4 separate regions of the Homo sapiens genome follow, and all the other regions are reported to be linked to region 3. The links are microRNA targets in miRTarBase. Many come from high-throughput screens and were not tested one by one. Region 3 holds a microRNA gene; each other region holds the end of a gene's coding sequence.
Evidence for each region. Region 3 holds the annotated microRNA hsa-miR-6857-5p (UUGGGGAUUGGGUCAGGCCAGU, at 2,119-2,140, opposite strand). A microRNA usually pairs through its seed, bases 2 to 8, with sites in the 3' UTR of a target mRNA and lowers its output. Matches are read on the target gene's strand: a 7mer-m8 pairs with bases 2 to 8, a 7mer-A1 pairs with bases 2 to 7 and ends in A, and an 8mer does both.

Region 1 (5,875 bases), not on the chromosome of region 3:
TCCTCTGTAATGTGCTCCTTTACCGTCATTCATTCACTTCATTTCTTCATTCAACACAGTTTTACCGGACACATATTTTGTGCCGGAGATCTTGCTGGACACAAGGAATACAGAGATGGTCAGAACAGAGTCCTATCTTTCCAAGAGATCTCATGCTTCTCTGAGCTGAACTTCTTTATCAGGATTCCTAACCACAGGGTGAACTCTGCTCTATTCCACAAACAAAGGTGCATTTATTGGTATCCCTGGTGTCACTTCCCTGCCTGTGATGTCAGTTCTCTCTCTGGACCCATTCCAGATCACACCCAGCCTAAAAGGTTACTTGGTGTACAGTGGAAAGTGTGACAGTCCAGGGACAAGCTAGAATTGATGGGTAAACTACCTCCCCACTCTGGGCTTCATTTCTTCACTGTAAAGCACAGGTTAGTGGGTGGGCTCTGGAGTCAGACAGCCTAGGGCCAAATGACTTTGGGCAAGTCATTTAACCTCTCTGAGCTTTAATTTCCTCATCTATAAAATAAGGATTGGCCAGGCATTGTGGCTTACACCTGTAATCCTAGCACTTTAGGAGGCCGAGGCGGGCAGATCATCTGAGGTCAGGAGTTTGAGACCAACCTGGCCAACATGGTGAAAACCTGTTTCTACTAAAAATACAAAAATGAGCCAGGTGTGGTGGTGGGTGCCTGTAATCCCAGCTACTTGGGAGGCTGAGGCAGGAGAATTACTTGATCCTGGGAGGTGGAGGCTGCAGTGAGCCAAGATCGCGCCACTGCACCCCAGCCTGGGAGACAGAGCAAGACTCTGTCTCAAAAATAAATAAATAAATAAAAATTAAAAAAATAAATCAATAAAATAAGGATCACAGGATATCTATCTTAGATACCCTGTTGTTCTAAGAATTGAATGAAATAATTCATCAGACGGGCTTAGCACAGTGCCTGGCATATAGTAAGTACTTAGTAAACGTTAGTTAAGAATATGACTGTATGACATTTTGCAACTAGTCTCCCCTCCTCTTGGAGGTGTCCCTAATTGGGTTAACCCCTTTGGGATTGTCCCTCTTCCAAATTCCGGCTGCCCTTCACAGTCAGTCATGTGATCATGTACTCTTGAGCACTGTTTGGCAGGCCTGAGGGTCGTACCCTTATCTTCCACTGCCTGTGTCAGTGCCGAGCACTTTCTAGCAGGAGCTTAATCAGTGTTTGTTGAACTCTAGATCTGTGGTCACGAACAAGTCATGGACGCTGCAAAGGCTCCTGCCCTTTCAAGAGCAGCTGAGATGAGGCCAGCCAAGCCCTGGGTGGAGGGGGCCAAGACCAGCCCAGGGCAGCACAAAGGGGTTGGGTTGTTCTTGAGCTTAGCATCAACTCTGCTTTTGGAGCGTCCAGAATAGGCCCCACTTCCCCTGGGCTTGTTGATTCTCTGGAAGGGCGGGTAGAAGTCTTGTTGTTTCCTTCTGCCCCAACAGGCCCTCCACGCCCTTCAGGAGGAGCAGGCCAGACTCAAGATGAGGCTGTGGGACCTGCAGCAGCTGAGAAAGGAGCTCGGGGACTCCCCCAAAGACAAGGTAAGGTGGGAGATCTGGTGTTGTTTGGTAAAAACGAGCTGGCGAGGCCGGGTGCGGTGGCTCACACCTGTAAACCCAGCACTTTGGTAGGCCAAGGGGGCCTGATCACCTCAGGTCAGGAGTTTGAGACCAGCCTGGCCAACACAGTGAAATCCCATCTCTACTAAAAATACAAAAATTAGGCCGGGCGCAGTGGCTCACGCCTGTAATCCCAGCACTTTGGGAGGCCGAGGCTGGTGGATCACCTGAGGTCAGTTTGAGACCAGCCTGGCCAACAGGGTGAAACCCCGTCTCTACTAAAAATACAAAAATTAGCTGGGTTTGGTGGCACATGCCTGTAATCCCAGCTACTTGGGAGGCTGAGTCCGAATTGCTTGAACCTGGGAAGTGGAGGTTGCAGTGAGCCAAGATCATGCCACTACACTCCAGCTGGGTGACAGAGCAAGACTCCCTTTAAAACAAAGAAACACAAAAAAGAGCTGGGGAGTTCTCGGTTTTATTCCTGGCTCTGCTACTTCCTTGCTGTGTGACCTCCATTATGTTACTTGAACATCTGTAAAGTAGAGCTACCCACCTCCCAGGACAAATTAAGATGTTGTATGTAAATTGCCCTGTATGGACCAGACCTGCATTCATCCACTCATTTATCCAGCTTTTCTTTCAGTAAATGTATTTATCTCCGGCACTCAGCATCAATGGAATGGAATCGGAGATGCCTTCCTCCTAGGTGGGAGTGAGGAACACTCCTACTCCCCTCCCCTACTTCCAGGTCCCATTTTCAGTGCCCAAGATCCCCCTGGTATTCCGAGGACACACCCAGCAGGACCCGGAAGTGCCTAAGTCTTTAGTTTCCAATTTGCGGATCCACTGCCCTCTGCTTGCGGGCTCTGCTCTGATCACCTTTGATGACCCCAAAGGTAAGCTCATGGGGAGCCTCAGGAGGGAGGTGGGGAGGGTTCCCAGTACTGACCCTGTTTCCCACCACCCAGTGGCTGAGCAGGTGCTGCAACAAAAGGAGCACACGATCAACATGGAGGAGTGCCGGCTGCGGGTGCAGGTCCAGCCCTTGGAGCTGCCCATGGTCACCACCATCCAGGTGATGGTATGACAGAATCCTGGGGCATGCAAAGCATGCCATGCACCTGGGCATGGGGAAGTGGAGCTGTGTCTGGGACCACCCCTTGCTGTCTCCCCCTAGATGTCCAGCCAGTTGAGTGGCCGGAGGGTGTTGGTCACTGGATTTCCTGCCAGCCTCAGGCTGAGTGAGGAGGAGCTGCTGGACAAGCTAGAGATCTTCTTTGGCAAGACTAGGAACGGAGGTGGCGATGTGGACGTTCGGGAGCTACTGCCAGGGAGTGTCATGCTGGGGTTTGCTAGGGATGGAGGTGAGGGCTATGCAGGCCTCCTGCAGGGGAGAGGGTATAGGGTGTGCAAGATTACGGTGCAGGGAGAGGAGAGGGCTTGATGCTAAAGGCCCACCCCTCCTTGCTCCCCACAGTGGCTCAGCGTCTGTGCCAAATCGGCCAGTTCACAGTGCCACTGGGTGGGCAGCAAGTCCCTCTGAGAGTCTCTCCGTATGTGAACGGGGAGATCCAGAAGGCTGAGGTAAGCAGGAGGGGTGAAGAACAGGGGCTGGGCTGGGTAACCTGTCTGCCTGCCAGGAACTTGCCCAATGAAGGATCAGAGGCCCCAAACCCCACTGACCTACCTACCCACCATCAGCCTCTCCAGGCCTCCCGACCTCATACCCCCATGGGGCACTGCCTGCCCTACCCCCAGCCCCCAGCCCTTCTCCCATGAGCCTTTGCCATCTCCTGGCTCCTTTTCCAGATCAGGTCGCAGCCAGTTCCCCGCTCGGTACTGGTGCTCAACATTCCTGATATCTTGGATGGCCCGGAGCTGCATGACGTCCTGGAGATCCACTTCCAGAAGCCCACCCGCGGGGGCGGGGAGGTAGAGGCCCTGACAGTCGTACCCCAAGGACAGCAGGGCCTAGCAGTCTTCACCTCTGAGTCAGGCTAGGGGCCTCCCCTTCTCATCCTCCCCACCCCCCCGCCAAGGTTCTCACACTGGCCTGGGCTTGGGTGCCCATATAGGAGGTCTGTATGTTCACCAACAGTGCGGAGGGGTCACACATTGCAAAACACTGCCCAGAACAGTAAAAAGAGCCTGCATGCCATGATGTTCTTCCTCATTTCACTCATGAAAGGAAACGTGATTTGGGCATGGAAAGAGGCAGGGGGCAGGAAGCAGCCCAGATCTTCTGCTGGCAGCACTAGCCTTCCAGGAGCTCACCTTCCCTCCACTCTCAGAGGCAACAAGCAGGACCCAGGGTTTGGCTTTTTATTGACACAAACACACAAAGGCAGCTGTGGTAATGGGGTGGTGGGGTACACAAAAGCAGAAATCGCACTTCACACATTTAGGCCTCATTTAGACAATGAGGAGGCTGAGCCTGTCCCTCCACCTCCCATTGCAATGGTTGGGGCAATAACCCTCCCTAATCCTAGCTCAGTGAGTAGAGGGAGTGACCTCCCTACCCAGGAAGTCCCCATTTTGGTTGCAATGGCCCAGGTCCTGACCATCCCACTCTGTACTTCCCTGCTCCATCTCCCCACCCATGTAAACAGAGTTTTGGGCTGAGTTTGATAAGCTGCCTCTCTGCTTTGAGAAGGCAGTAGGGCCTCCCCTAACTGCAAGGGGAATGTGCTTGGATTTTTACTTTGGTCCCAGTACAAGAAACAGACAGCACTGCCTTTCAGAGCTCTGGCTAGTAAATGCCACACATATCTGCAAGGCTGAGGAAGCTTCCCCGCCTTTCTCCTCAACCACCATAGAGACGGGACATGGCACAGACCACGATGAGGGCACCTGTTTTTGCCCTGCCTCCCCAGGAGGCTTGGGGCTGCCCCACCCAATGGCACATACACAGATTTTTGGCAGTGTTGTGGGACTGGGGAGGAGAGAAACCCCAGCTCCACCAGAACAAGGAAGGCACTGGGGAGTACAGGGGAGGAGAAGGAGGTGGGAAACAGGATCCTCCCTCCCCGCCGCCACACACACACAAGCACAGGTTTTCGTTGCTAAGGCACTGAGAACAAATCCAGAGAACTCAGTGAAGGGTGGGGGCTCTGTATCCTTCCCAGAGTTGTGACCTAGGGGAGTAGGTCTGATTCCCGCCCTGTTGGAAGAGGCAGCCTTGGTTAAGAATGGCAGAAAACCTGGAGATGGAAGAAGCCCAATTGTGCTTAAGAAGTTGGGGACAGAGGACGAGATTGGGAACTGGTCAAGCCCAGAGGCGGGCACTGGTCAGCCCAGGCTGAAGGGACACTAGGGAGAGACAGGTACATGCTGGACTCACAGAGATTGGCCCCATATCCTGAGCTGACGTTTCAATTCTTTGGGGAGGTGGCGGGGCAGGGACGGGAGGAAAGATGAGGCAGAGGTGAAAGCACATGGAACACAACAGGGGGGACTGGCTAACCTTGGCACAAAAGCAGCACAGCAGGCCCGGGGAAAGGGTGGGGGCAGGAAGCAGCCGGCCTCCCTCTGACCCTCCCTGTCGCCTTGGCAGGGCCCAGACATCCAAATGGTCACTTCCCAACCTCTTCAGAGGTCAGGAAGCGGGGAGGGGCAGGGGAGAGCGGTCATCACCACAGAGACCTTCGGGGGAGGGAGGGCAGAGCATTATGACAGAGGCTGAAATGCAAGTCTGGTGGCCAACAGAACGTAGCTTCCCAACTTCTCCCTTCGCTGGTCTCTAGGGTCTCACAGCCACTTGCCCTAGTTCTCCTTCTCTGGCCCTGGAACCAGGAGGACCTTGCCCACATTCTTCTTCTCCTGCATCTGTTTCATGGCATCAGCCACCTGGGGAGGAAGGAAAGATGCGGCTCCCAGTGCTATCCAACCCTCATCCAACAAGAGCCAGTGTGATGCAGGCAGCCCTCCTCTTCCCCAGGAATCTGCCCCTTGGGACCCCAGCCTTCATGAGTCCTACCCAAGCCCTCCCTGCAAAGTCCTCACATTCACCTTCTCGAAGGGCCAGACTGAGTCAATGTGGGGCTTGATGTGGCCCTGGTTGTACAGAGCCAGGAGGCGGGCCACCACACCACTGACCAGCTCCACCTCACCATCCAGGTAGCCCAGGTGGAAGCCACACACAGCCCGGTTGGCCTGCAGCAGCTGCAGAGCTGTCACGCTGAACTGATTCCACCATGTCCGGGCCAGGGCCATCAGGTTCCGTTTGGGGCCCGTCAGCAGGTTGGCCATTCCTGAAGGACAAGGTGACATAGCCTGTGAACCCCCCCA
Region 2 (5,996 bases), not on the chromosome of region 3:
AGGAAGCACTGAGGGTCTGAGGAACGAGAGGGAACAGAGATTTACTGAGGAGAGTGTGACCTCCCGTCATAGCGCTATTGCTGTTACTTGGGTAAATTAAGTAGAACCTCTCAGTAAGGAAACTTGGTCAAAGGTATTCCAGCAGTCTTCCTGTGAAACCATGCTCACTGATCACCACCCTCAAAGTGCAGCCCAGCTTCCTCAGCCCAGCTGGTGCAGCCACCCAGCCCACAGCCCCACCACCTCCTCCCGCCACCCCATGGCATCTCAGGTCCTCTGTGGGTACAAAACTGAGTAGGAACCAGTCCCTCTCCTAAGACATACTGGGATAGTGCCACGGGACATGTGTGTGCACATCTGCAGGAAGGGCCGCAGGAGCGGTCAGGGCCAGCCCCGCCAGGTGGTCATGTGGAAGACCCTCACCAAGCCCACAGCCGTGGAGGCTGGAGGCGAGTGCTGCTCTGAGAGCCCATGACAAACCCACTCCCCCCGCCAGGCTGTCTTCTGCTGATGACGGATGATGGTTTTACATGAAGCATCTGCATTTGTATTTAATATATTCACTTTTCAGGAATAAAGAGGGATGTTCCCACATGCATTTTTTCCAGGGTATTTTACCGACTCCTGTAGTAGCCACCCATTATACAACCCAGCAGAACTGGAAGAAAAGGATGCCATCGGAGTGAGGAGGGCAGCCCAGAGGCGTCTGCAAGCAGAGCTGGGAATTCCTGGGGAGCAGGTACACACAGCATCCAGTCTCAGCTGTGTCCACGGGAGTCCAGGTTGGCAGCGGGCAGACGGTGAACAAAGTCCAGGCTGGATCTACACCATTGACCTCATGAAGCACCATGAGGATGAAGGATGGGGCTGTGGATGGGGCTGTGAATGAGCTGTGAATGGGGCTGTGAATGGGGCTGTGAATGTAGCTGTGGATGGGGCAGTGTGAGTCCCTATGTGTCCCAGGCAGGGTTGAGACTGTGCAGGAATCTGTCGACCACACACCGAAGAGGAAATTCAAGCCGGGCGTGGTGGCTCACGCCTGTAATCCCATCACTTTGGGAGGCCGAGGCGGGCGGATCACAAGGTCAAGAAATCAAGACCATCCTGGCCAACATGGTGAAACCCCGTCTCTATTAAAAGTACAAAAATTAGCTGGGCGTAGTGGCACACGCCTGTAATCCCAGCTACTTGGGAGTCAGAGGTTGCAGTGAGCCGGGATTGTGCCACTGCACTCCAGCCTGGCGACAGAGCGAGACTCCATCTCAAAAAAAAAAAAAAGAAAGAAATTCAAGTGTAGAAAGAATGTCCAGGATCCTGTGAGCATGTGTTACCTTCATCCACTCAAGAACACGTTTAAGAGAGGATGGATGTTCTCCTGACAACGCTAGCCGGTTTCTACGGGGTTTTCTGTTGAGGATGTGTGTGTGACACGGTTAGTTCTTTAAATGAAGACAGACAGGTTTACTGGAACCAAGAAACCAAAGCCGGTTTATCATTCAGACTTGAGTCCACAAAAATTTACTTAGCTAAAATCGAGGTTTTGGAAATTATCAATTACCAAAGAAAGTGTTCATTTTCTGAGGAAAACAAATGTGTTTATTTTCTCTATTTTTCTGTAAATTCTGTGTTTTACATTAGCGTTGTTAACACTGCACCAATTTCTGTCAATAGATTTCTCCAGAGGACATTGTGTTCATGACAATCTATCACCACAAGGCAAAATCAGACAGAATTTGGGGAGAGCATGAAATTTGTTACCTTCTGCTTGTGAGGAAAAACGTCACTCTGAACCCGGATCCCAGTGAAACGAAAAGCATCCTCTACCTGTCCCAGGAGGAGCTGTGGGAGCTGCTGGAGAGGGAGGCGAGGGGTGAAGTCAAAGTCACCCCCTGGCTAAGAACCATTGCCGAGAGGTTTCTGTACCGGTGGTGGCCTCACCTGGATGACGTGACCCCGTTTGTGGAGCTTCACAAAATACACAGAGTGTGAGAGGCAGGGAGGTCGAGTCAGCCATGTGTAATGCCCTCAGTGCAGGCAGACGCACCATTGAGGCAATGATACACCCTCTCCAAAAAACAGGGCAAAAGGGGCACTTGATTGCCCATCATGTATAAATCACTATTTCAACCTTTTCATCAACTTTGTCATATCTTCATTTTCCCTTTTCCTTATTTCCATATTTCTCATCTGCCTGGTTGCAGGGAGGAAATTTAACATTTCCTTTGTCCCAATTTCCATTTTATAAGCACTTGTTTGATTAACAGCAGCTGATCCTGAAAGTCTTGGGGAGATCTTGAGAGTCCTGAAGCAGGCGGACTAGCCTGGCTGGACCATGAGGCTGTCTCCCCACAGCTTTATCCAAGCCTCCAAGGTCAGGATGGGATCTCTGTATCATGTTTTTCTTTTTAAATCACTTATTTCAGAGTGCAACACAAGGCTGCATTTTTAAAAAAAAGACACATTCAATCTTGCATCCTAATACAAGCAGTACGGAAGATGCGTATGGTCTCAGCCAAGTGACTCGACGTTTATCCACTTCTGTTCATTTGATCGTTTCAGTAATATGCTTACAAATAAAGACATACTTGCTTTAAAACATACTGTTGTTGTTTAACACAAAGTAAACTATATGTTAAGTTTTGGTGTTTAATACGGAGAAAGAATTTCAAAAACCAGACCTGGTATTTTTTTTTTTTTTTTGAGATGGAGTCTCGCTGTCGACCAGGCTGGAGTGCAGTGGTGCGATCTTGGCTCACTGCAAGCTCCGCCTCCCGGGTTCAAGCCATTCTCCTGCCTCAGCCTCCCAAGTAGTTGGGACTACAGGCGCCCGCCACCACACCCAGCTAATTTTTTGTATTTTTAGTAGAGACGGGGTTTCACCGTGTTAGCCAGGATGGTCTCGATCTCCTGACCTCGTGATCCGCCTGCCTCGGCCTCCCAAAGTGCTGGGATTACAGGCATGAGCTGCCGCGCCCGGCCATACTGTTGTTGTTTAACACAAAGTAAACTATATGTTAAGTTTTGGTGTTTAATACGGAGAAAGAATTTCAAAAACCAGACCTGGTATTTTTTTTTTTTTTTTCACACGGAGTCTCTCTCTGTCACCCAGGCTGGAGTGCAGTGGCACGATCTCGGCTCACTGCAACCTCCGCCTCTGGGCTCAAGCAATTCTCCTGCCTTAGCCTCCCGAGCAGCTAGGATTACAGATGCCCACCACCACGCATGGCTAATTTTTGTATTTTTAGTAGAGATGGGGTTTCACCATGTTGGCCAGGCTGGTCTCGAACTCCTGACCTCCTGATCTGCCCACCTCGGCCTCCCAAAGTGCTGGAACTACAGGCTTGAGCCCCTGCGCCCAGCCCAGCCCTGGTAAATTTTTAAAATTGCCACATGTAATCCAGAAGTGTGATTAACTAAAGTCCTTTCCTCAGCTATAATGTTGATTGTGTGACTTGATAACTTATCCGTGGTGGCTCTTGGACCCCTGTGTGTCTTTGGAGCTCCAGGAGCACACGGACCCCTGGGCAGGTCCCTCCGACCCCACAGCTCTTCACCCCAACGCTCCCCAGCAGGTGCTTTTGAGGTGGCATTGGCGGTGTTTTTGTGTTTTACTGAACATGTAACTTCAGGGACGGGCCACAGAAATAGGAGAATGCCCATATTTAATTGCCTAATGCCTCCAGCAACATTTTACTCCCCCAAAAGTATTTTTGCTTTAAAACAAAATAGAAATGTCATGTTGTTTGCCTTTTTATTTGGCCAAATCCATAGCGACTATAACTAAACCAAAACATGAGCTAAGTAAATGAAAACTACTTTCTTCTGGAGGTTTATTTTGGATAAAATAGTTGAAGACAGACTACAATGAGACATTGTAAAATAAGACTAGAAAATAATTTAAGAGCGTATTTTAAGCACGGGATTCCGACACACTCATAAACGTGTTTGCTCCCAGCTCTTACAAAAGAAAATAAGGTTTTTCTCCATCAAAAACAACCTAGTTAAACCAGTAAATCTTCCCAGTTCTGAAAATCTGAAGCAACTGATACTCCATTAAATGTGGAAACACTGTCTACTCAAAATATTTGTAATATTATGCAGTGACAAAAATTTCCCACACCTATATAGGGTTAACCATAGTTTTCAGCAAAGCAACAAGTGCTTTACTTATTTTGTCTTTTTCAGTTTATACAGAGCTCCAATTTCATGAAACCATACTGTGCCAAACCAGGAAATAAACAGCAACACTCTAGCGAAGCCACGCCAACCAAACGGATACTATCTCCTGTCCTTTTTACCAGCTTTCCTCTTCCCAGACAGCAAGTGCTTGGGCTTCATATCAAACACGTGTCTATCCGCCTCCCCTTTCTTCCCCAACCGATTCATCTTCTTCTGAGCATTCTTCATCATAGTCTTGGCTTTCTTCACCATCTAAAAGGAGGAGAAAAAAATAAAGTATGTTCATTACTTAAAACCAATTTTCCATTCTGAATTTCAACTACTGGGTAACAATCTGTTTAATGGCTCAGGTCTGCTCAGCGAAGAGACCCTGTTACATCTCTTTTCTCTTAAGCCCAGCACAGTTATCCCTGTTACATCTCTTTTCTCTTAAGCCCAGCACAGTTACCCCTGTTACATCTCTTTTCTCTTAAGCCCAGCACAGTTACCCCTGTTACATCTCTTTTCTCTTAAGCCCAGCACAGTTATCCCTGTTACATCTCTTTTCTCTTAAGCCCAGCACAGTTATCTGCAGGAACTCAATGAGTATTTTTGTATAAAGACTGGATGAAAATCATACCCAGGACAAGCTTTATACCCAGGACTAGATACACTTTAGACCTAGAAGGTTAGCACACATCTGTTTTAACTCCCTCTTACACAAGCTAAGGACTCAGGCCCATGAACCTGTTTTCCTCAGGTCTGACTGACAAGTGGCAATGCCAATATTAACAGCCAGGTTTCAAGATGGCAATGGCACAGAGGAGTGAAGCTCAGGCTTCCATGAAGGAGACTGCAGTTTATACACAGACTCTCCTGCATCTCCATTACCACAACGCTGAAACTAAAAGTTGTTGTGTTTAATAAAAGGACGTTTCAGCAAGACAGACTGTGTCCATCTTAAGTGTCTTTGCCAAAAGACGCTACAAATAAACTAAATGTGACTCAAGCTCTCCACCTGGGGGGAACAATCCTGCAACCTAAGGATGAGCAGGATCACCCGCCAATCAACCCAGGAGTTCCCTCTGCTGTTCCTCCCATGGGGGGCTTGCTGGACTTGAGGCCTCCTGGTGCTCAGCTGTGGCCACTTCCTGGCCCTCTTCAGACAGCAGGGTCTAAGCCCAGACTGCTAGTGCTGTCAGACCATGCTCTGGCCACCCTCCGCAAAAGCAAAGTGCCAAGGAGGGGTCCATCCAGGGCAGCTGTCAGGGGCATCCACCTGCACCCTGACCCGTGCTCTCCTCTAAAGGATGCCACAAAACGAGGGCATGCAGTACACACAACCCCTGCCATAGTTCCTGCAAATGGCAACTGCTGGTGTTTGCCCTGAACCCTGTGCAATAAACAACAGAGACTGTCATTTTATTACATTACACAACACAGAGACTGACCTTGACATCCCTAAGACCAGAAACGTCACGTGGAGTTCGAGAGCAACTCCCACTCCGGGCCACAGAGGACGGGGGAGCAGAGTCTTCCCGCTTTCTTTTCCTAGTGATGCTCCGGGATCTTCTTGCCTGGACTGCGTAATGGGCCTGCAAAGCAGGGGAAGCAATGCTCAGCGCTCAGGACCCCAGGTCCACTCCCAGGCTCAGTGCTCAGCGCTCAGGACCCCAGGTCCACTCCCAGGCTCAGTGCTCAGCGCTCAGGACCCCAGGTCCACTCCCAGGCTCAGCGCTCAGGACCCCAGCCCCGCTCCCAGGCTCAGCGCTCAGGACCCCAGCCCCGCTCCCAGGCTCAGCGCTCAGGACCCCAGCCCCGCTCCCAGGCTCAGAGCT
Region 3 (4,904 bases):
TGTTGCGCACACCAATCTCCCGACAAAACTCTTCAAACACCTCATCCTCTACCTGAGAAGAGAAGCCAGGGAGGGCATCGGCCCTTTTAGTCTGTCCTGCTTCCAGTCCCAGTCCTGCCCTGACACACACGCTGGCATGGCCCACACCCTACCAACCTGGTTCATCTTCTCCTTCAAGTCTTTCATTTCCCTCTCTCGGCTCTGAATGATCCTCTTGATATCATTAATGCGAGGCCCAAAGTTGGCTAGCTCACTCTCCAGCTTGGATTTTTCCTACAGGCAATGGGTTGAGAGGACAAAGCAGACCAGGCTCCTTGGAGAAAAAGCTACCTTGACTGCATTGGCCCCACAGTCAGGAAGGGCTAGCTCTCCACAACTGAGAGAACCTGGCTTAGCACTACTGCCCTAGTCAAGCCTCCATGATGTTGCACTGAAGCCATCACATGGCTTCTTCCCTGGCATCCAGTTCAGCCAGCTTCAATCCACAGGGCTGGGGACACAGTAAACATCATTAGGTATAGGTCCCAGTCTTTGATCTACAACCCCTGGGGGCAGAGTTGTTTCAGAATTCAGTTTAGATTTTTTGAGTTTAGAAAAAGATATATAAATACACACACTACATATAAAACCTCTAGGGCGGTCTGGGGAAGTAGTCAGTAAAAAAAACAAAACACATTAATATACCTAGAACAGTCCCCCCCCGCCCCGCCCACTACCACAAGCAGGGACTGAAATGCCCATAGCTCACTTTCAAAAATTCAAATTTGTTGAATGAATAAATTATGCTAACAATAGCACATAACATAAACTGAACACATGGTAGTCTTAAGCACTTTACATGTTAACTCATTCAATAATGACCCTATAAAGTAGGTATCATTTATTTATTTTGAGACAGAGTCTCGCTCTGTCACCCAGGCTGGAGTACAATGGCATGATCTCGGCTCACTGCAACCTCCACCTCCCGGGTTCAAGCAATTCTCCTGCCTCAGCCTCCCAAGTAGCTGGGATTACAGGCGCCTGCCACCACGCCCAGCTAATTTTTTGTATTTGTAGTAGAGACAGGTTTGGCCAGGCTGGTCTCCAACTCCTGACCTCAGGTGATCCACAGGTGATCCACCGTGCCCGGCCGAGTAGGTATCATCTTAACTCGCATTTCACAGATAAAGATGTGAAGGTTGACACTGAAAGGTGAAAATACTTGCCTAATGTCAAACTCAAGGCAGAGCCAAGCTCTGAACCCCTGGCTGTCTGACTCTATGCTATACCTGACTCCCTGCGGCAGGCTGGGAGGAGACGGGGAAGTGAAACAAGTTCCCCACCCCCAGAGAAACCTAGGCCAGGAATGTGTGGATGGCCTTTGGAGAACAGGGCTGAAGGCCAGGCCCCACCTGCAGATTCAGGGCTAGATGTCGTGTCTTGGTCTGTTCTAGGTCACTCTGGGAGTACTTGAGCCGCATCTGCAGTCCATGGGCCTGAGACTGCACCTGACGCAGCTCTGCCTCTTTCCGTTTTGCCTTCATCTGCTCCTGAAGGGAACAAGAAAGAAGGGCTAGGTGGTAAGGTGGTGGCTGACCTAGGCTTAGGACTCCCACTGCTAAAAACAGCACTGCCTGTGGCTTACTTTCAGCTCCTCTGTCAAGCGCTCCTTCTTCTCTTTCAACTTGTCTACTGCTTTCTCATCCCAGCGCCGTGCCTTGGCCTTCAGGTCACTGGCCCCACCAGAGATCACTCCTGACTTCTGGAATAGGGTTCCATCCAGTGCCACTGTCTACACACAGCAGGGGGAAGAGAGAAGAGGGGGAGAAGCTGAACAAATGAATCTCCAGTACTGAGCCTGTCCAGCTCCAGCCTGGGCAAGGGAATCCACACCTTGTGGCGCTGGTGGCCTCCAAAGGCAATGCGGCGGGCATCTTCCACGTTGTCACAGACAAGGGCATTGCCACAAGCATACTGCAGGGCCTTTTTGATATGAGGTGGCTCATAGCGAATCACATCAATCACTAGCTTGGCCCCCTTCAGCTCCCGGAGTTTCTCATCTGTAGGCTTCACCTGTGGGGAGAAGCTCAGTCAGTGGCAGAACACAAACAGGGAGTACTAGAGGAGGGGCCCTTGAACACTGGCCTGACCCAATCCCCAACAAGCCTCACCTCCAGGTAGTCAAGAGGCAAGAAGGTCTCAGGCTCCCCACGCTGCTCCTTGATATACTGAATACAGTCCCGGCCTGTCTTCTCCGAGTCCACAATAATGGCATCCATGTTCTTGCCCAAAACCTTGGTTACAGCAATCTGATACTTCTTTTGTGTGGGCTGGCATAGGTCAATGAGGCGGCCGTACTGAGTAAAGTAGGAAGGGAAAACTGAAGTATGAAGCTTTTGGAAGCTGGCTCAGGAATCCTAATTCCCAGTATGGAAAGGGGGACAGACTAGAATCTATATCAGGAAGTGAATGCAACTGTATTGCCTAGTGGTTAAGATAACCCAATACCAAGCATGGTAGTGTGTGTTTGTAATCCTAGCTACTTGGGAGGTTGCAATGGGAGGACAGCTTAAGCCCAGGAGTTCAAGACCAGCCTGGGCAACATAATGAGACCCTGTCTCAAAACAAACAAAAAAGACAGCCCACTAGTTCTGTACCCATGCAACCCTACCCTATCTGAATGAGACTGTATGGACTGAGGAGGAGGCAATTGCAGACTAGCTTGCTGTGTGCACTCCAGATCAGCACAGTGGCCAATCCTAACGTCCCTTTGAAAGGTGGAAAAGTTTGGGTAAGAGAAGGGAGGTAAAGAAATGAATAAATGAGTTATGTAATGAGGGAAACTCAGTATTACATTAACACCTCAAAAGAGGTTCAGAGCAAGAGATGATATTGTCTCTTAGCACAATTATCCCAGATGCCTGAAAGTATGAAGCTATGTTTGCCGAGAACACTCCTGGTTTTGGAACCTAACAAGATTGAATAGAAGCCTGCAAACCTGAATGGCCTCACCCTAGGAGACATTTTTACATGACATGATCATGGACTAGACTAATTATTAATTAATGACTCAGTGGGATTCTAGTAATGTGCCAGTATCTTTCTACTCTTTTTTGGAGACGGAGTCTCACTCTGTTGCCCACGCTGAAGTGCAGTGGCGCAATCTTGGCTCACTGCAACCTCCACCTCCCAGGTTCAAGTGATTCTCCTGCCTTAGCCTCCCGAGTAGCTGGGATTACAGGTGCCCGCCACCATGCCCGGCTAATTTTTGTATTTTTAGTAGAGACGGGGTTTCACCATGTTGGCCAGGCTGATCTCAAACCCCTGACCTCCGATGATCTGCCCGCCTCGGCCTCCCAAAGTGCGAGGATTACAGGCGTGAGCTACCGCTCCCAGCATCTTTCTATTTATTACATGATTGTTCTGATGTAAGGGATCTGTGTTTGAAGATCAAAGTGGACTGTGGTTTTATGAAATATATATTTAGTCTTCTACCCGTGAGTTCCTGACACACAACTCCTAAAACCCTTAGAATCTCAGGAATGAGCAGTGTCTTTTGTATGTTAATGAGATGATTATGGCTGGAGGCCCATAGATAGCTTCTGGATAGGGGCTGGTTACCAGAAAGACCAAGGCAGGATTAGATTTGGGACTCTTAGCTCCACCCCTACAACCTTCAGGAGGGGAGAGGGGCTGAAGGTTGAACTGATCACCGATGGCTGATGATCTGATCAATCATGACTACATAATGAAGCCCCTGTGTGGGGGTACCTGGAGGGTGGCTTGCCCAGATTGGGCATGGAAGCTTCACATCTCTTCTCCCATACCTTGCCTTATGCATCCATCTGGCTGTTCTCTGTATCCTTTGTAATATCCTTCATAATAAATGGGTAAACATAAGTAAAACATTTTCCTGAGTTCTGTGAGCTGCACTAGTAAATTAATCGAACCCAGGGAGGGATTCTCGGGAACTGTAATTTATAGCAGGTCAGTCAGAACCACAAGTCACAACCTGAGACTTGCAATTGGCACCTGAAGTCTTGGACTGAGCCCCTAACCCACAGGATCTGATGCTATCTCCAGATAAATAGTGTCAGAGCTGAAGTGAATTATAGGTCACCCAGCTGGTGTCTGCTGGAGAATTGCTTGGTGTGTGAGGAAAAACCCCCACACTTCTGGTGTCAGAAGTGAAGTGTTGTGCTGGTTGTGAGAGTAGAAAAAACACTTTGGTTTTTTCCTATCTCACAGAAGAACACAGCCCCCATGCTATCAAGGAAAAGCCTATTCTGGTTCCCAAGCAATGACTTCAGGCAGTCGTGTCTGAATCCAGAATCATCTTTCTAAACCTCACATCTACCATTTTACAGACCACCACCACCCAGGCACTATGCCAAGTATCTTATATATATTATTTCAAATTCTCACAAGCACTTAGCAAAATAAATCTGGCTGGGCGTGGTGACTCACGCCTGTAACCCTACCACTTTGGGAGGCCGAGGCGGGCAGATCACTTGAGGTCAGGAGTTTAAAACCAGCCTGGCCAACATGGTGAAACCCCGTCTCTACTAAAAATACAAAAAAATTAGTTGGGCATGGCGGCGAGCACCTGTAATCTCAGCTACTTGGGAGGCTGAGGCAGGAGAATCACTTGAGCCTAGGAGGCAGAGATTGCAGTGAGCCGAGGTTGTGCCACTGCACTCCAGCCTGGGCGACAGAGCGAGACTCCATCTCAAAATCAATCAATCAATCAATCAATCTCTTCTACCAGTTCCCTTCCTGCAGCCTCCAAAACCAAGCCTGGTTCCCTAAGAACTATCAGATTAAGGGGGCAGGGACTGACTCTAACCATACTTATCTCCCCAGCAGTGTCTAGAGAAGTGATAGGGAAATATTAGTGGAACCAAACTAAGTTGAACCCAGGTATG
Region 4 (5,345 bases), not on the chromosome of region 3:
TGGGAATGAAGGCTGCTTGTTGGAGGGGCCGCAGGACAAGAAGGGCGGGTCCACTACCCTCCATGCTCCATCCAGGGCCCTGCGCTTGGGCCTTCAGCCAGTGGCCTCCTCACAGCAGAACTGGACATTCTCCTGGGAGACGTCTTCATGGCTGCCGCAGGCCGAGAGGGCCCTGGGCAAGGCAGCCCCTATCCACAGTTGCCAGGTCTGGGGTGCTGGAGCCCTCAGGGTGCTTGGCTGACAAGGGGAGGAGTGTCTGCCCGCTCCTTGTCCTTGTGGAAGACCCACGAAGTGATGTGCTGGGGCAAAGCTGGAGCCAGACAGAACCAGGGGTGGTGTGCAGGGCTGCCCTGGGACCAGGTGGCTGCGTGTAGGGCCCCGGGCCACCTTGGAGGCGGGGGTGGGCATCTGTGGCCGGTTCTGCCTCTGAGTGTGGCTATGCTGGGTACGGTCCCTTCCTTGGGAGGGGACTGACGCAGCCCTACCCTCGGTGCCAGACGAATCTGACTACCAGACGGAGTACGAGGAGGAGCTGCTGGACGTCCCCAGGGATGCATACGCAGACTTCCAGAGCACCTCAGCCCAGCAGGGCTCAGACTTGGTGAGGAGCTGGGCATGGTCCCACCTGGTGCCCACAGCTGAGCCTTGGTGCCTGGCCCTGTGCCGGCCACTCCCTCCCTGTGGTCCCACCGGGTTACCAGCGCTGCAGAGCCCCTGCCCTGCCTGGTCCTCACCTGGAACATGCGGTCTGCTTGCAGGAGGACGAGTCCTCACTGCGGCATCGACACCCCAGTCTGGCTTTCCCAAAACTGTCTGAGGGCTCCTCTGACCAGGACGGGTAGAGGCCTCTGCTAAAGAGCCCGGATGCAGCGTCTTCCGTGGGACTGTCCCCAAGGCTGAGGCTCCTGCCAAGTCCTAGGGGCCTCTGTACCTGCCCTGCTGGAAGCCCTGACTTCCCCGGGGCCCCAGGCTGTGTTAGGGTTCTCTGGGCCTCTTCTTTGTACCAGCAGCCCTGCATACAGGGCCCTGTGAGCCCCCCTGCAGTCCTGTGAGGCCCCTGAAGCTCTGTGAGGCCCCTGAAGCTCTGTGAACCCCCTGCAGCCCTGTGAGGCCCCCCGAAGCCCTGTGAGGCCCCCCGAAGCCCTGTGAACCACCTGCTGCCCTGTGAGGCCCCCAAAGCCCTGTGAACTGCCTGCTGTCCTGTGAACTGCCTGCTGCCCTGTGAGGTGTGGGAGCCCTGATGCTGCCGTGTGATGTTTCAATAAAGGTGGATCTCACTGTTGGACGTGTCTCCCGGGCCGAGGTCCCTGTGGCAAAGAAACACTACTGGTTCTCCCTGATGCGGGTGGTCCCTGAGGCTGGGCAGTCCCCAGTCCTCCTCAAAGGACCCCACTGCTGGGGCCTGAGAGCCCTAGGGCGGCAAATGCAGGCCAGGCAGGTAGGGCGTCCAGAGTCTGCATAGAGCTGTGGCCCCCCAGGACCAGGACGGGCCCCTCTGTCTCTCTCTGGCCTCGTGCAAACTGGGTGCCCCCTAAACTGGCTTCCCCTTCGGTTTCCAGTTCCCAAACTGCACAGGGAGCCCTTTTGTGTAAGGGGAGGGAGAACCGGCCTCCCTGTGATCCTGCAGGTCTGAGCAGCAGATCGTGAGGGCCGAGGGCCCAGGACTTTGCGACCAGGGGGCCGCTGGCCTCAGTTTCCCCGCTCTGGAGGCCTGGACGAGAGGGCGCGGAGCCAGGCCGCCCGGCCCCGCCCCCAACTCAACCCGGGCCCGGACGTCACGGTGGGCGGGGCCACATGTCCTCTCCGAGCTCTCCGGGGCCCTGACGTCACGGTAGGTGGGGCCGACCGCCCCTCTGGGCCCGCCCGGGCCCTGACGTCACGATGGGCGGGGCCGGCCCTCGGTTCGGGCAGCGCTCTCCCGGGAGCGGCGGCACGCGCGGAGCGCCGGGTGCGGCCATGCGGGGACCGGGCCCGACCCCGAGCCCGACCCCGAGCCCAAGCCCGAGCCGGAGCCCGAGCGAGACCCCGAGCCCGAGCCCGAGCGCGACCCCCGGTGCGGCGCGGCTACCCCGGCGGAGGCGGCGGGCGCGGGGCGCGCTCTGAGGCCCGGGGGATGCGCCGCCGCCTCGACCATGGGCGCCGCCGCCTCCAGGAGGAGGGCGCTGAGGAGCGAGGCCATGTCCTCGGTGGCGGCCAAAGTGCGGTGAGTGCGGCGGGGCCGCCTTCCCGCACCCCGCCCTGGACCTCCGACCCCGCCCGAGTCCGCCCCTGCCCCGCGGTGCTCCCCGGGCTCCCGGGCCCCGGCCTCTGCCACTGAGGCGCCCTCCCCGCGCCCCGCGCCTCCCTCTTCCTGGTCCCCTGCCCTGCTCTTCCCTCCCCTCCCCTCGCGAGCGCGTGGTGGGCGAGCGCACCCCCCAGGTCGGGAGTGGCCTCGGTTCCCCCGGGGAACAGCAGCCGACCGGCCTCGCGACCCCTCTCCACGGTCCGACGGGCAGGGGCCGGGCCTGCAGGCCTGGCCAGGGCGCACCAGGACCAAGGGTGTGTGGGCTCCCGGAGGGGGACGACCCCGACCCTCCTTCCAGACGCCGAGGGCCTGGCTGGGGACCGGACCCCCGGCTCTTGCGCGGCCCGGTGTTTGGGAGGGTCGTGCCGTGGCCTCTGACCGTGCCCTCTGTCCACCCTCAGAGCAGCCCGAGCGTTTGGAGAGTACCTGTCCCAGAGTCACCCTGAGAACCGCAACGGCGCAGGTAGGGGCACGCGAGGCCGTGCCAGGGCCGCCCAGACCCCCCAGCCCAAGGGATGCTGATCCCTGCCTCCGGGGGTGGAGCGTGAGGGGCATTGGTTGCGCGTGGGCCCGGCGCCCTGCCGGCCTGGCTTCCTTACATCCCCTGCCCTCCCTGCCCGAGCCCCAGGAGCAGTTCCCAGCCGCTCGTCACCATGGCACCCACCCCGCCTGGGCCGTTGGCATGGCAACAGGCCTCCTGGCTCCCCCAGGGCTGGCACCACTGCCTCTGGGGGCCAGCTGGTGGGGGGAGGGGGAAGTTGGCACCAGGCAAACGGTGCGATCGCAGGCTGGGGGATGGCCTGCGTGTTCCTACCCGGCAGGACCGCACACAGGTAGCACAGCGTCACCCAGCCCCCACGCACATGCTAGAGCTTCAGGCCCAGATAGGAGTGAGGGGCTCAGAAACACGCCAGTGACTAGGGTTTGGGCAGCCCTAGTCCCCCACAGAGGCCAGGTGCCCACTGGGTGTTCTCTGCCTTCGGCCTGCTATGAAACCGGCAGCGGGGGGCCCACACGCGGCAGGCAGGCTCACTCAGTGTCTCTCCTAGATCACCTGCTGGCTGATGCCTACTCTGGCCACGACGGGTCCCCCGAGATGCAGCCGGCCCCCCAGAACAAGCGCCGCCTGTCCCTCGTCTCCAACGGCTGCTACGAGGGCAGCCTCTCAGAGGAGCCCAGCATTAGGAAGCCCGCAGGCGAGGGCCCTCAGCCTCGAGTGTACACCATCTCTGGGGAGCCTGCCCTGCTGCCCAGCCCTGAGGCGGAGGCCATTGAGCTGGCGGTGGTGAAGGGGCGGCGGCAGCGGCACCCTCACCATCACAGCCAGCCCCTGCGCGCCAGCCCTGGTGGCAGCCGGGAGGACGTCAGCAGGCCCTGCCAGAGCTGGGCGGGCAGCCGCCAGGGCTCCAAGGAGTGCCCCGGATGTGCCCAGCTGGCTCCTGGCCCCACCCCTCGGGCCTTTGGGCTGGACCAGCCACCTCTGCCTGAGACCTCCGGTCGCCGCAAGAAGCTGGAGAGGATGTACAGCGTTGACCGTGTGTCTGGTGAGGGGTTTGTGTCAGGGCATAGACAGGTTTGGGGGTGCATGCCGCTGCCAGGGTCTGACAGCAGCAGCCACTGTGAGGCTTGGAACAGAGAACAGGTGCTCAGGTCACAGCATGCCAGCGGACTCAAGATTAAAACCGGCAGGCTTCTGCTGCGGCCTCCACACCCTATGAGCTGTGAGCTCCCTCAGCTCCTCAGCAAAATCTGCCAGGCCTCACAGTCCGCTTTCGCCCTGCTAGCACCAGGTCAATCAAGGAGTGCTTCCTGGAGGAGGGGGCCTGGGAGGATCTTAAGGGATATGTAGGGAGGAAGCACCGCTTAATCAGGAGACTGGGCTGCCCTCCGAGAGTCCTGGGGAGCTGTTGGGGCCCAGCCAGGCAGTGGGCATCTTTCCCCAGGGTTGTTGAGTTGTGTGGTAGCTTGTCCACCAGGCAGAAAGTCACTCCACTGTCCCCACACTTGGGCATCAGGGAAAGGCTGTGGGGGCCCTCGGAAGGGGACAGCCCTCAGCAAGGTGGTCTCTAGCCTCGGTGAGGGCCTCCAGCTAGAGCATGGGGGCTGCAGAGAAGGCCTCAGAGCCTCTTCTGCCCAAGGGAAACAGACGCATTGTTTTCCTGGGCCTCCTGGAGACAGACTGTGCTTTCAAAGGAATGTTTCTCAAACTTTGGGTGGCCAAAGGGAAAGTTAAGCCAAAAAAATCAAAGCGTCAAGTTACCAAGAGCGTGGTCTTGGTGAGTGAGCAGCAGACATTCGAGCACTGCCCTCTGTGCCCGTGTGGGGATGCCACCCTCCCCCCACCCGCCCTGGCTGCCAGCTTCTGCTGACCCCTGGACCCAGAAGCATCTGCTTCCCAACAGGGAGGGAGAGGCTTCAGGAACCCCTACTTCACCCAGCCACCGCTCCTTTTTGTCTCTCTTAGACGACATCCCTATTCGTACCTGGTTCCCCAAGGAAAATCTTTTCAGCTTCCAGACAGCAACCACAACTATGCAAGCGTGAGTCTTGTGCCCACGACTTGGGGTCAGGGTTGGGTGGTCTCTTTCTGCTGCTCAGGAAACAGCACTTTTTCCCAGTCTCTGGGCCTACCAGGGGGGCTGCTTCTGAACAGACCCACGTGCCTATGCTGTGCCAGGCCTGCCAGGGAGGCCAGGGCTGACTGCTCTTCCCCTCCCATGGCTGGTGCCCAGCCCCCCCCCCCACACACACACAGTCAGGGGACCTGGCCCAGGGCTGCAGCTGATGAGCTCTCAGTGGGGTGTGGGGTGTGGCAGGTTCTCCTGCTCCTATCCACTCTCCTCAGCCTGTGTCTGCCCTCCCTCAAACCCCAAATAGAAGCCTACTTCTGTTTCATACGTGCCATAGGTCATCACAGTTTCAGGGTCCCCGCAGGGACCTGCTCCTCTCTGTCTTGACATACATTTGGCTTTTCTGTTCTGGGATTCCTTCCAGGGAAGTTCCCTTTGCTGCATTGGTCCCCACACCAAAGAAGTGTCCTGCCCGGGGGAGTCCACCCCAC

Region 1: miRTarBase lists VAT1 as a target of hsa-miR-6857-5p. Seed matches in the 3' UTR shown: 7mer-A1 at 4,968-4,974 and 7mer-A1 at 4,824-4,830.
Region 2: the mRNA of GTPBP4 is a reported target of hsa-miR-6857-5p. Seed matches in the 3' UTR shown: 7mer-A1 at 2,283-2,289 and 7mer-A1 at 1,734-1,740.
Region 4: miRTarBase lists PNPLA7 as a target of hsa-miR-6857-5p. Seed matches in the 3' UTR shown: 7mer-A1 at 888-894.

The regions. Positions count from the first base shown.
Region 1 is chr17:43,010,711-43,016,585 of GRCh38, forward strand. VAT1 (vesicle amine transport 1) reads right to left here. Exons shown (of 6, transcript NM_006373.4): 5 at 5,597-5,838; 6 at 3,897-5,434. The coding sequence ends at 5,351. IFI35 (interferon induced protein 35) reads left to right here. Exons shown (of 7, transcript NM_001330230.2): 2 at 1,469-1,567; 3 at 2,337-2,484; 4 at 2,557-2,663; 5 at 2,766-2,952; 6 at 3,066-3,172; 7 at 3,398-3,746. The coding sequence ends at 3,589. Among named protein-coding and RNA genes, the nearest start is that of IFI35, 6.9 kb to the left of the region's middle.
Region 2 is chr10:1,015,510-1,021,505 of GRCh38, reverse strand. GTPBP4 (GTP binding protein 4) reads right to left here. Exons shown (of 17, transcript NM_012341.3): 16 at 5,610-5,753; 17 at 1,574-4,431. The coding sequence ends at 4,279. It overlaps IDI2 (isopentenyl-diphosphate delta isomerase 2), which reads left to right. Exons shown (of 5, transcript NM_033261.3): 4 at 609-739; 5 at 1,672-2,596. The coding sequence ends at 1,989. Among named protein-coding and RNA genes, the nearest start is that of IDI2-AS1, 4.1 kb to the left of the region's middle.
Region 3 is chrX:53,403,621-53,408,524 of GRCh38, forward strand. MIR6857 (microRNA 6857) reads right to left here and starts at 2,145; the gene lies at 2,053-2,145. SMC1A (structural maintenance of chromosomes 1A) reads right to left here. Exons shown (of 25, transcript NM_006306.4): 10 at 2,151-2,336; 11 at 1,873-2,052; 12 at 1,625-1,771; 13 at 1,392-1,529; 14 at 157-273; 15 at 1-52.
Region 4 is chr9:137,455,890-137,461,234 of GRCh38, reverse strand. It overlaps PNPLA7 (patatin like domain 7, lysophospholipase), which reads left to right. Exons shown (of 35, transcript NM_001098537.3): 34 at 498-601; 35 at 759-1,283. The coding sequence ends at 842. It overlaps NSMF (NMDA receptor synaptonuclear signaling and neuronal migration factor), which reads left to right and starts at 1,901. Exons shown (of 16, transcript NM_001130969.3): 1 at 1,901-2,203; 2 at 2,686-2,747; 3 at 3,334-3,828; 4 at 4,749-4,824. The coding sequence starts at 2,133. RefSeq lists enhancers at 1-196, 3,020-3,717 and silencers at 1,671-2,020, 2,111-2,380.